Homo sapiens: one gene and its partners. The protein of the gene in region 3 binds, or shares a complex with, the protein of the main gene of each other region. Each region holds a gene or a part of one and is shown on either strand. Other genes may lie near its edges.

The links.
Region 1: TBP (region 3) and TAF4 share a complex: the UniProt entries of both Homo sapiens proteins name them as parts of the TFIID basal transcription factor complex.
Region 2: TBP (region 3) and TAF1B share a complex: the UniProt entries of both Homo sapiens proteins name them as parts of the transcription factor SL1/TIF-IB complex.

The regions. Positions count from the first base shown.
Region 1 is NC_000020.11:61,999,764-62,003,414, reverse strand, and holds part of TAF4 (transcription initiation factor TFIID subunit 4), read left to right. Parts: intron 1-140; coding exon 141-255; intron 256-786; exon of another isoform or gene 787-1,601; coding exon of another isoform or gene 1,602-2,268; intron 2,269-2,495; coding exon of another isoform or gene 2,496-2,668; exon of another isoform or gene 2,669-2,687; intron 2,688-2,693; coding exon 2,694-2,863; intron 2,864-3,160; coding exon 3,161-3,291; intron 3,292-3,651. Other genes in the region: uncharacterized protein LOC105372704, read left to right, coding at 1,602-2,268, 2,496-2,668. UniProt on the Homo sapiens protein: The TFIID basal transcription factor complex plays a major role in the initiation of RNA polymerase II (Pol II)-dependent transcription.
Region 2 is NC_000002.12:9,909,366-9,913,016, reverse strand, and holds part of TAF1B (TATA box-binding protein-associated factor RNA polymerase I subunit B), read right to left. Parts: intron 2,282-3,651; coding exon 2,104-2,281; intron 1,507-2,103; coding exon 1,460-1,506; intron 1-1,459. UniProt on the Homo sapiens protein: Component of RNA polymerase I core factor complex that acts as a GTF2B/TFIIB-like factor and plays a key role in multiple steps during transcription initiation such as pre-initiation complex (PIC) assembly and postpolymerase recruitment events in polymerase I (Pol I) transcription.
Region 3 is NC_000006.12:170,557,369-170,561,019, reverse strand, and holds part of TBP (TATA-box-binding protein), read right to left. Parts: intron 1-3,651. UniProt on the Homo sapiens protein: The TFIID basal transcription factor complex plays a major role in the initiation of RNA polymerase II (Pol II)-dependent transcription.

The DNA of each region.
Region 1 (3,651 bases), on a different chromosome or scaffold from region 3:
TATTAATATGAAGTTTTTGGAAACTTTCTTGTAGCTAATTAGGAGAGTGGTAGCTGTGCCCTTGAGCCTGTAAAGCACCAAAGCACATAGTTGATCTAATAAAAGCCTTGTGTGGTTTCCACTGTGTGTTTGTTTTGTAGTCCCTGTGGTGAAACCCGCCGTGTTACCTGGAACCAAAGCCCTTTCTGCTGTCTCGGCACAAGCAGCTGCTGCACAGAAAAATAAACTCAAGGAGCCTGGGGGAGGTTCGTTTCGGTAAGGAATGGGCCTGTGTACGTTGGAGAAGCGTGGCCAGAGCGGAGAAGAGTCCAGAGTCCGTGCTGCTCCATTCCCGCCCACGGGTCTTTCCCACGTGGCCCTGGCGGCCGGGGCTCCAAGGCTCCTGCTTCACGCTCACTTTGACCTCACGTTCACACAAGTGTGTTTTCCCATACAGTTGGCTCAAAGAGGTTTTGCTTCATACACATAGCCAGAAAGCGAATCAACTGATTATTTTTATATGAACTAATAGGAAATTCATTTTTTAGTATAACATCGTATTTTGAGTTCATTGCATTCCTAGTATAGAATGCTTCACTTTCCATGTATTCAACTTCAGAACCCTCAGAAATGCTGTACTGCTCCAGGCGTAGTGGCTCACGCTTACAGTGCCAGCACTACAGGAGGCTGAAGTGGGAGAATCGCTTGAGCCCGGGAGTTTGAGACCAGCCTGCACAACATAGTAAAACCTTACTCAACAACAACAAAAAATAAAAAATTAGCCAGGCTTGGTGGTGTGTGCCTGTGGGCCTAGCTACTTGGGAGGCTGAGGCAGGAGGATCACTTCTGCCCAGGAGTTCAGTGTTACAGTGAGCTATGGTTTTAGCAGTGTACGCCAGCGTCGGTGACAGAGTGAGGCCCTGTTTCTAGAAAAATAACTGCTGTGCTTTGCCTGGGCCTCCTGGAAAGCAGGTGGTCTGAGCATCACCTCAGTCAGGGAGGTGCTTATGGGACCTGAGCAGTGGGAGAGTCTTGGAGTGATCTCTGTTGTGATCAAGGGGCGGTGGAGTTGTGTGTATTTCAGGAAGTCTTACTGTGAATTTTCCCTTTCCCAGACACTTCATCCCTAAAGGCATCAGGCAGGGCATAGCAGGCCTGGGGAGTGGCTGTGGCCTGAGCCAGAGTCCCAGCCCAAGCAGGGAGAGGTGGCCAGCATGCCTGGGCCCAGCGTGACGCTGATACTTCAGTGAGAAGGGAGGGCACTTAGGGACATACACGGGTGAAAGAATTAATCAAGGCTGCAGGAAGCCTTGGTATTTTGCTGTCAAGGAGTCAGCGGCCTGGCAGAAGGGATAAAGGAGAGTGACCCCTGTGGGCTGGCTCAGGATTGGAATGCTGACGCAAACCCCTGGGTTTCAGTGTGTCGGCAGGCATGGATAACCATGGGTCTTGCCGTAAGTTTCTAGCTTTGTTCACCGCAGGGTCCTGGGAACAGTAACGCCCCAGTAACACTGAGCACACCTAGTGTTCAGATGTTGTCTTCTAAAAACCGTTTTCCACTAAAATGACAAGGACTCCTGAGAGAAAAGGCTGATTGCGGGACTGGGATAAGGAAATACAAGATGAGCGGAGACCGTCCTGTGTCAGAGAGCAGTGGACATGGGCATGACGTGGACGTGGATGTCAGCAGAGCAGCCTCCCTCCCATGGCCGGGTCCTTCAGCTGGAGCCCTAAGCTGTGCAGCCCAGCCACAGCCCGTGACCACCAGGGATGCCAAGACCCTGAGTGAGCACCTGGAGCCCATAGGAGGACTGGGCATGAGAACTGCTGTAGAGCTCTTCCCCGAGACACAACGACCCCAGGAGACGCCAGGCAGGCCCCCGGCCTCACGTTCAAAGCCCACTGCTGGAGGCGGCAAGTGGAGGCTGCGTGCATGTGGAATTCCCGGCAGGACTCTTAGCTCACATCTCCTCACGAGGGGGCCGAAGTCAGCCTGGAAGAGGACGTCCTGCACACAGCTGGCCTGTGCCTTCCAGGTGTCAGGGGCAGCCCAGGAGTCAGGAGAGGCTGAGGAACCTTCCAGCTTGAGGAGCCGGACAAGACGTGGCAGCTGGGATTGGGATGCAGACTGTCCTGCAGGGAGAGGCGCTGCTGGGACCGGGTCCTACGGGGGAGGGCCTGGGGAGGGGCCATTCATCATGGCCCGGTCTCAATGGCATCCTGCTTCTGGAGGGGATGCCCTTGTCTGTAGGAAACACGTGCAGAATGTTCCGGGTGGAGGAAAGTCAGGTTAGCAACTTTCAGGTGATTCAGGAAAAAATTGTGCGTACTCTTCTTCCAACTTCTGAGCCTTTAAAAAGAATTTAATGCTGCCTCTGGCTTTAAAAAGCTTTGCATAGATCAGACCCCCACAAGTCCCCGCGCTGCTCCCGGCTTTGCTTTCTCTGGACTTGAGTCCCCTGCGCATCTGTGTGTAGATGTTAACCCGGCGCCAACTCACAGCTCTCCTTCCGCAGAACAATCGAGCTTTCCAGGAAAGCAGCGAGGCACCCTCTCTGCTGTGGCAGATGCAGCAGGTGCAGGTGCGGGGAGGACAGAGGCCTGGCCTCCTCACGGCCCTGCCTTCCACGTGGGGTTTCCTGCCCTTACCACCCCAGCCCACCTCCCGATGAATTCCTTGTACAGTTAAAGTGATCTTCCCTTCTTTCCTCAAGGGACGATGATGACATTAATGATGTTGCATCGATGGCTGGAGTAAACTTGTCAGAAGAAAGTGCAAGAATATTAGCCACGAACTCTGAATTGGTGGGCACGCTAACGCGGTCCTGTAAAGATGAAACCTTCCTCCTCCAAGCGCCTTTGCAGAGAAGAATATTAGAAATAGGTACGTTGGTGTTTAATGACTGAGTTCTTATTAAACAGCTGCGCTGCTGGGGCATGGGAGCTTCAGGTGAGCACACCTGACACCTGGTCATGTGTTTTGTCTGAGTTTGTGATTTCCACATGGTTGCTGGTGGTGGTTCTTGGGTAAAATATGGGTACCACTGCCTTCCACCCCACCAGCCTTTCTGGGCTCCCCTTGGGTTGTATAAAAGCAGTAACTGCTGGATCAGAGATTAGCCGTAAAGAAAGAACTGTGCTTAATGATTTTAAAATACTGTTTTTCTTGCCTGACCTTTAGGTAAAAAACATGGTATAACGGAATTACATCCAGATGTAGTAAGTTATGTATCACATGCCACGCAACAAAGGCTACAGAATCTTGTAGAGAAAATATCAGAAACAGCTCAGCAGAAGAACTTTTCTTACAAGGTAACAGGCTGTTTGCCGAGGAGAGCGTCTTTATGTTGTTGGCCCCCACTCTCTGCTGGCTGGGAGCCTCCTCCCCACACCGAGGCAGAGGGCGGTGGGTCCCAAGTGCCTCCATGTTCCTTACGAACGTGTTTTGGATTTCTTATAGGACTAGATTTTGGAAAGATTTCTTTTTGAGGTAGGGTCTCACTCTGTTGCCCAGGCTGGAGTTCAGTGGCGCAGTCTTGGCTCACTGCAGCCTCCGCCTCGTGGGTTCAAGCGATTCTTGTGCCTTCGCCTCCCAAGTAGCTGGGATTACAGGCGCACACCACCGTGCCCAACTAATTTTTGTATTTTTAATAAAAGGGACAGGGACTCGCG
Region 2 (3,651 bases), on a different chromosome or scaffold from region 3:
AGAACTGAATGCAGTAAAGTATAAAAACTCACTCCTCACTCTTTCACTCCATACAGGGATTATTCTCCATTATTCTCTGGCGAAGGCAGTCTCTTTCCATGCCTAACTAAAAATCTTTTCAACTGGTCAATATGATAATTGTTTAATCCAATATGACCTTGTAGACCATACAGCCACAGAAGAGAGGAAACTACCGAAAGAACTGTAAGAACAGAGGAAAACTATAGTAATCAATAGAACTCACGGTTCTTGGACCTGGAGTAAATCACAACTTTTCTAAACCTCAATCTCCCCATCAATAATGCTGGGGGCAGGGGATGGTGATTAGCAGACAGAGCAGAGAGAAATGACAGTGATCTTTGCCCTGCTGACAGCATGGATTTATTTTGAGGCTTACAGGGAGACAGGTCAAAGCGCTCTGTTTATTCTACATGTCTACGTAGTAAATTATCATCTTTTAGCATTAGAGGGGATGTTAGAAGACAGCTAGTTCAACCTTTCACTCTACATAGAAGCCAACATGAGCAATGTACAGAAAGTAGTATTTTATTTTGCACATATTCTGGAAAGAACACACAAACTGATTGCTTCCAATAAATTCAAGCCTCTAAAACCAATGAACATAAATCCTAATGAGAACAGAACATTAAGAAACTGGAATTGAATTTAATAATCCACATATTCACCACACTTCACTGAGTTGCTCTTAGGCTAGTCACTATGTTAGGCACTAAAGATACATTAAAAGAAAAAAAAAAAAAGATATGATCCCTCCCTCCAGAAGCTCACACTTCACTTGTCTATCTGTCTATCACTTATAAAGTACTTATTAGATGCCAGATACTCTTCTAAGCACTTTACAAATATTGGCAATCTAATAGGGACAGACGTACTTAGGCCATTAGTTAGACCTCAAGGCACTAAACATCTAGCAAAAGTCTGAACAAGAGTGACTGCGGCAGGAGTTATTAGTTCTGATTTGGGAAGAGGTGAAGCATTGTGAAGTGGATAGGTGTGAAGACCAGACAGAAGAGTGGTGTTTATGCTGCATCTTCAAGAATAAAGAGGCATTTGCCAGGGACTGAACAGGAGTTGGGGTAAGAAGGAAAGAGCATTTCAGATAGAGGGACCAACAAGAGCAAAGGCTGAAAGCATCAGAATCGACAGGATGGTCACAAAGCTGCCTGTAAATTCATGATCTAGCATGGCTGGTGAGTAGAAGTTGGGAATACAAAGCAGCCTGGTCTTACATATAATACGGACTCACTGATATTTTTTAGTACCCTAGAGATACAAGTAGGTAATTATATGAAAAAACAATACTGGTACAATATACAATTTGTATACATGTGTTTATGTGTATATGTGTATTTTTCAAAGTTGTTTGCCTACATTTATTCCATCTTTTAATCTATCATCTATAACCACTTTGAATTTGAATGATAAAAAATTAAAATACCTTTTTTGTTCTTTTCATTATGCTTTTCAGCAAGATTAGACAAAGACCTGGAGATAACAATAAACAAATCAATTTATTTAGAAGTCATGTATTTGGAAAGATAAATTCTGAATTCTTCTGAGAGAAAAGTGTAGAACAGTATTTGAAATTGATACCATGTTTTAATGGAGAAGCAATCACTGAAACAGAGGAGGAGACACTATAAATACTGTCACTCTTTGTTGGCATCTGGGAGGGGTGACATATTAAGATTCCTTTACTTTCTAAAATAATCTTTGAGAACACATATTGCCAGGAGCCTAAAGGGATATAGATAGAGATTTATGAAGATACTTTAAAACTAGGAAATCAGTGGAGCAATGAGGAACATTGCTACCTAAAGAATAACAGGTATAAAACATGATCAAACAACTGACAACCAGCTGAGTCAAAGTACTGTGTAAGAAATAATTGTGACTACTAGTCAATGTTCTGTAACAATTGAGAGTCTCCATTTTTTGAGATAACATATAATTAGGTAAATACAGTACAAATTTTTTCTTTAGCTCTTTTTTTAAAGTGTCTTCATGACATTTAAAGCTTTCTTAAAAAACTAAGATCAGCACCATAAAATGTTACTTGTCATAAAATTGACGTACACTTACCACTCGAAACTGTCATCCAATAGAAAGAGCAGTTTCAATACCACCACAATGATAGCTACAGCTTGTACATCGTACTTAACAGTTTTTGCCATTTTAGCTATAGGATCAAATGTCAGAAAATCCACTTCTCCCATTCCAGTCATTTTTACCACGTGGCAAGTTAAGCTATGCATTTCATCTGAAGAACAAAACAGTAAAATGTAAATTATTTGCCAACTAGACCATCCCCAATGTATATATCCATAAAATAACCTTTATCTTAAAACACGACACTATGCAAGAACTCAGAGACCCACATTTTGTGAATAAAACATCAAAACATGGCATCCATATAGAAAAATGAATGGTAGAATCTTAAAACGGCGTATCATTCCCTATTCCGACTTCCTAAAACATCTACTATTTCTAGGACACATCCTGGCATCTGGCAGCCACATACCAGTTGTTTCATCCACATCTCTTGTCTGTGTTTCTATAGCAGTGTTTGCTCACCTAAAACTAACTCCCTTATGAGACCAAAAGCTTCTCTAGCAATGTATGTGCACTGGCTGGCATCCTGGCTAGCACACTGGAAGCCCTCAACAACTGTTTAACTAGATATATTGCTTTCCTAAAGAAATTATATGTTCAGCATAGACTACACCTATTACTCAAGACTGAATAATGTGGGACTTGGAACCAGAAAACCTAGGACCTATATTTAAGCTTTCCAATCACTAGCTTTGTGACTCTTGGATCAGAGTCACTTAGCCTCAGTTTCTTCACTTGTAAAATGGGTTATAATGAGAATAAATTGAGGTTATGTTCAAGTGAATAGACTTTGAAAACTAAACAAAAAATTTCTGTACTTCCCAATCTAAGTATGTAAGCTGTGACCACACAATTTCAAGTATGACAGCCATTTTTTATAAGAGATAATGAGCTTGCATGGAACTGAACTGAATCTTCTACATGCATTCAGTCACCATGTCCTGTTAATTCCATTCTCTCAATGTGGCATATAGTACCATGGTTGAGAATAGACTATGGAACCAAACTGCCTGGACTAGAGTCCCTGCTCCATCACTTACTAGCTCTGTGACCGTGGACATGTTATACAACCTTTCTGTGCCTCAGTTTTTAAACAATCTATCTAAAATAGGAATAAGAATAGTACCTGCTTCATAGCTGTTGTGAAGACTAAATTAATGAATATACCTAAGGCACTTGGATCAGTGCTGACTGCTTTCCAATCCATCCCCTTTCTTCCCGTCACTGTTGCTCCTTAGGCCACCCTTATAACTGCTCTCCCTTTCTCTAGTCTTACTCTCCTGTGGCCCAATCATCGTATTCCCCTGCTCTCATGAACTCACTAAAGCTTTTAGCTCCCAGCCTAATCTCCATAGTTCCCCCAAACAAGCCATATTCTCACTTGCCTCTCTGCTTTGCACAGCTACTTTTGCCCCTTTGCCTAGAAAGCCAGTTTCTTTCCCCCATTCCTCATCTCAGGCTCTGCCTGGCTGAAGCTCACTCATCTTAGAGAACTTGGTTATACCAGTGACCTCCTCT
Region 3 (3,651 bases):
CTTCCTTTCACTGAAGATGTCTCTGTAGCATATGATACTATTTGACAGCATTTTACCCACACTAGAACTTATTTCAAAATTGGAGTCAATCCTCTCAAACCCTGCTGCTGCTTTATCAACTAAGTTTATGTAATATTCTAAAGTCATCAGTTCTTCACCAGGAGTCAATTCTATCTCAAGAAACCACTTTCTTTGCTTACTCACAAGAAGCAACTCCTCATCTGTTCAGGTTTTATCAAAAAATTGCAGCAATTCAGTCACATCTTCAGGTTCACTTCTAATTCTAGTTCACTTGCTATTTCCACTACACCTGCAGTAACTTCCAGCACTGAAGTCTAGAACCTCTCAAAGTCATCCACGAGGGTTGGAATCAACCTCTTCCAAACTCTTATTCATGTTGATATTTCACCCTCCTCCCATGAATCATGAACATTCTTAATGGCATCTAGAATGGTGAATCTTTTTCAGAAGGTTTTCAATTCACTTTGCCCAGATTCATCAGAGGAATCACTATCTATGGCAGCTACAGCATATGTCCCTCCCTGCTTCCTTTCTTTGAGACAGGGTCTCCATTGTAGCCTTTAACTTCTGGACTCAAGTGACCCTCCCGCCTCAGCCTCCCAAGTAGCTGGGACTACAGGCACATGCCACCATGACCAGCTAATTAAAAAAAAATTTTTTTTTGTAGCAACAGGGACTTGTTTTGTTACCCAGGTTGGTCTTGAGCTCCTAGCTTTGAGTGATCCTTCCACCTTGGCCTCCCAAAGTACTGAGATTACAAGCATGAGCCACCATGCCCTGCTGTATTTCTTAAATAGTAAGAATTGAAAGTTGAAATTACTCCTTGATCCATGGGCTGAAGAATGGATATATTATTTAAGCAGGCATGAAAACAATATTAATCTCCTTGTTCTTCTCCATCAGAGCTTGTGGACAACTAGTTACACTGTCAGTGAGTAATATTTTGAAATTAAACTTTTTTTCTGAGCAGATCTCAAAGAGCTTAAAATATCCAGTAAATCATGCTGTAAACAGACGTGCTCTCATCAGGTTTTGTTGTTCTGTTTACTGAGGACAGGCAGAGTAGATTTAGCGTAATTCTTAAGGCTCTATGGTTTTAGAGCAGAACATGAGCATTGGCTTCAATTTAAACTCACCAGCTCTATTAGCCCCTAACTAGTCAGCCAGTCCTCTGAAGCTTTGAGGCTAGGCACTGATTTCTCCTCTCTAGCTATAAAAGTCCTAGATAGCATCTTCTTCCAGTAGAAGGCTGTTTCATCTACATTAAAAATCTATTATTTAGTATAGTCACCTTCATCAATTATCTCAGCTAGATCTTCCAGATAACTTGCTGCTTCATGTTGCATTTTTATGTTGTGGAGAAGGCCTCTCTCCTTAAAGCTCTGAATAAACCTCTGCTAGTTTCAAAACTTTCTTCTACAGCTTCCTCTCCGCTCTCAGCCTTTACAGAATTGAAGAGAGTTAAGGCCTTGCTCTGTATTACACTTTGGCTTAAGGGGATGTGTGGGTGGTATGATCTTCTATCCAGACCATTCAAACTTTCTCCATATAAGCAATAAGGCTGTTTTGCTTTCTTATCACTTGTGGGTTTACTGGAGTAGCACTTCTAATTTCCTTTAAGAACTTTTCCCTTGCATTCACAACTTGGCTAACTATTTGGTGCAAGAGGCCTAGCTTTTAGCCTGTCTCAGCTTTCAACATGCCTTCTTCACTAAGTATAATCATTTATAGCTTTTGGTTTCAAATGAGAGATGTGCAGCTCTTCCCTTCATCTGAACACTTAATTAAAAGTCACTGTAAGGTTATTAATTAGCCTAATTTCCATATTGTTGTGTCTCAAGGAATAGGGAAGACCAAGCAGAGGGAGAGAGATGGGGGAATGGTTGGTCACGCTGCAGACATTTATCAATTAAGTTCCTGTATTATACAGGTGCAGTTTATGGCATTCAATAATAATTACAATAGTAACATCAAAGATCACTGATCACAATAACAGATAATAATGAAAAGGTTTGACTAGGCACAGTGGCTCATGCCTGTAATCCCAACACTTTGGGAGGCCAAGGCGGATGGATCACTTGCAGCCAGTAGTTTGACACCAGCATGGTGAAACTCCGTCTCCACTAAAAATACAAAATTTAGCTGGGTGTGGTGGCGCATGCCTGTAATCCCAGCTACTTGGGAGGCTGAGGCAGGAGAATCGCTTGAACACGGGAGATGGAGTTTGCAGTGAGCCAAGACTGCACCACTGCACTCCAGCCTGGGCAACAGAGTGACTGAAAAAAAAAATTAAAAAAAAAATACAAAAAAAAAGAAAAAAAAAAGTTTGATAACAATAACGGATAATAATGAAAAAGTTTGAAATCCTGCAAAAATTACCAAAATCTAACCCCAAGACATGAAGTGAGTACACACTTTTGGAAAAATAATGCCAACAGACTTGCTGGGTACAGGTTTACCACAACCTTCAATTTGTCAAACATGCAGTAAAGTGAAGTGCAGTAAAGTGAGGTGGGCCTGTGTATGAGTGGCTGACAAGCACTTGCCAAGGTGCTCAGAAACATTAGTAATCAGGCAAATAAAAATCAAAACCACAATAAGATACTACTAAGCAATCACTAGAGTGAAAGTAAAAAGACTGACAGCAGAAAGTGTTGGTGAGGATGTGGAGCAACTTAAATCTCTTATGCTGCAAAACAATACAGCCACTTCAAAAAACAGTTTGGCAGTTTCTTATAAAGTTATACATATACCAATATAGGACCTAGCAATCCTACTCCTAAGTATTTACCCATGAGAAGTAAAAACAGTGCATTCAAAGTCTACACAAATGTTTACAGTGCTTTTATTCGCAATAGCTCCAAACTGGAAAGACCCCAAATGTGAGCAACTGGAGAATGGATGAACTGTGGAACATCCAAACAATGGAGTGATACTTAGCTATACAATGGATTAACTACTGATATACAAACAGTACACTGGGCTAAGAAGTCAGACATACACAAAAAAGCATACACTCTGATTCCATCTATATGAAATTCTAGAATAGACAAAACTAATCTTCAGCATTGAAAAGCAGATGCAGTAGTTACCTGGGGCCAGCAGAGTGACTATAAAGGGGAAGAAGGGACTTTTTAAGGTAACTGAAATGTTCTGTAATTTATACATTATATATAATTATCAAAACAGACACTTAAAATGAGTTTTTTTGTATGTATATTTCAACAAAAGTTATTGATTTTTTTTTTTTTTTTTTTTTTTTTGAGACAGAGTCTCGCTCTGTCTCCCAGGCTGGAGTGCAGTGGCACGACCTCTGCTCACTGCAACCTCCACCTCCCGGGTTCAAGCAATTCTCCTTGCCTCAGCCTCCCGAGTAGCTGGGATTACAGGCACCCGCCACAACACCTGGCTAATTTTTGTATATTTTGTAGAGATGAGGTTTCACCACGTTGGCCAGGCTGGTCTCGAACTCCTGACCTCAGGTGATCCGCCCACCTTGGCCTCCCAAAGTGCTGGGATTACAGGCGTGAGCCACTGCACCCAGGCTGAAAAATTTTTAAAGTAGATGGGTGGTTGAGAGCTTGAAATGTAAAAGGGGAAAAATAAAACTAGAAAATAATTTGGTGAGGG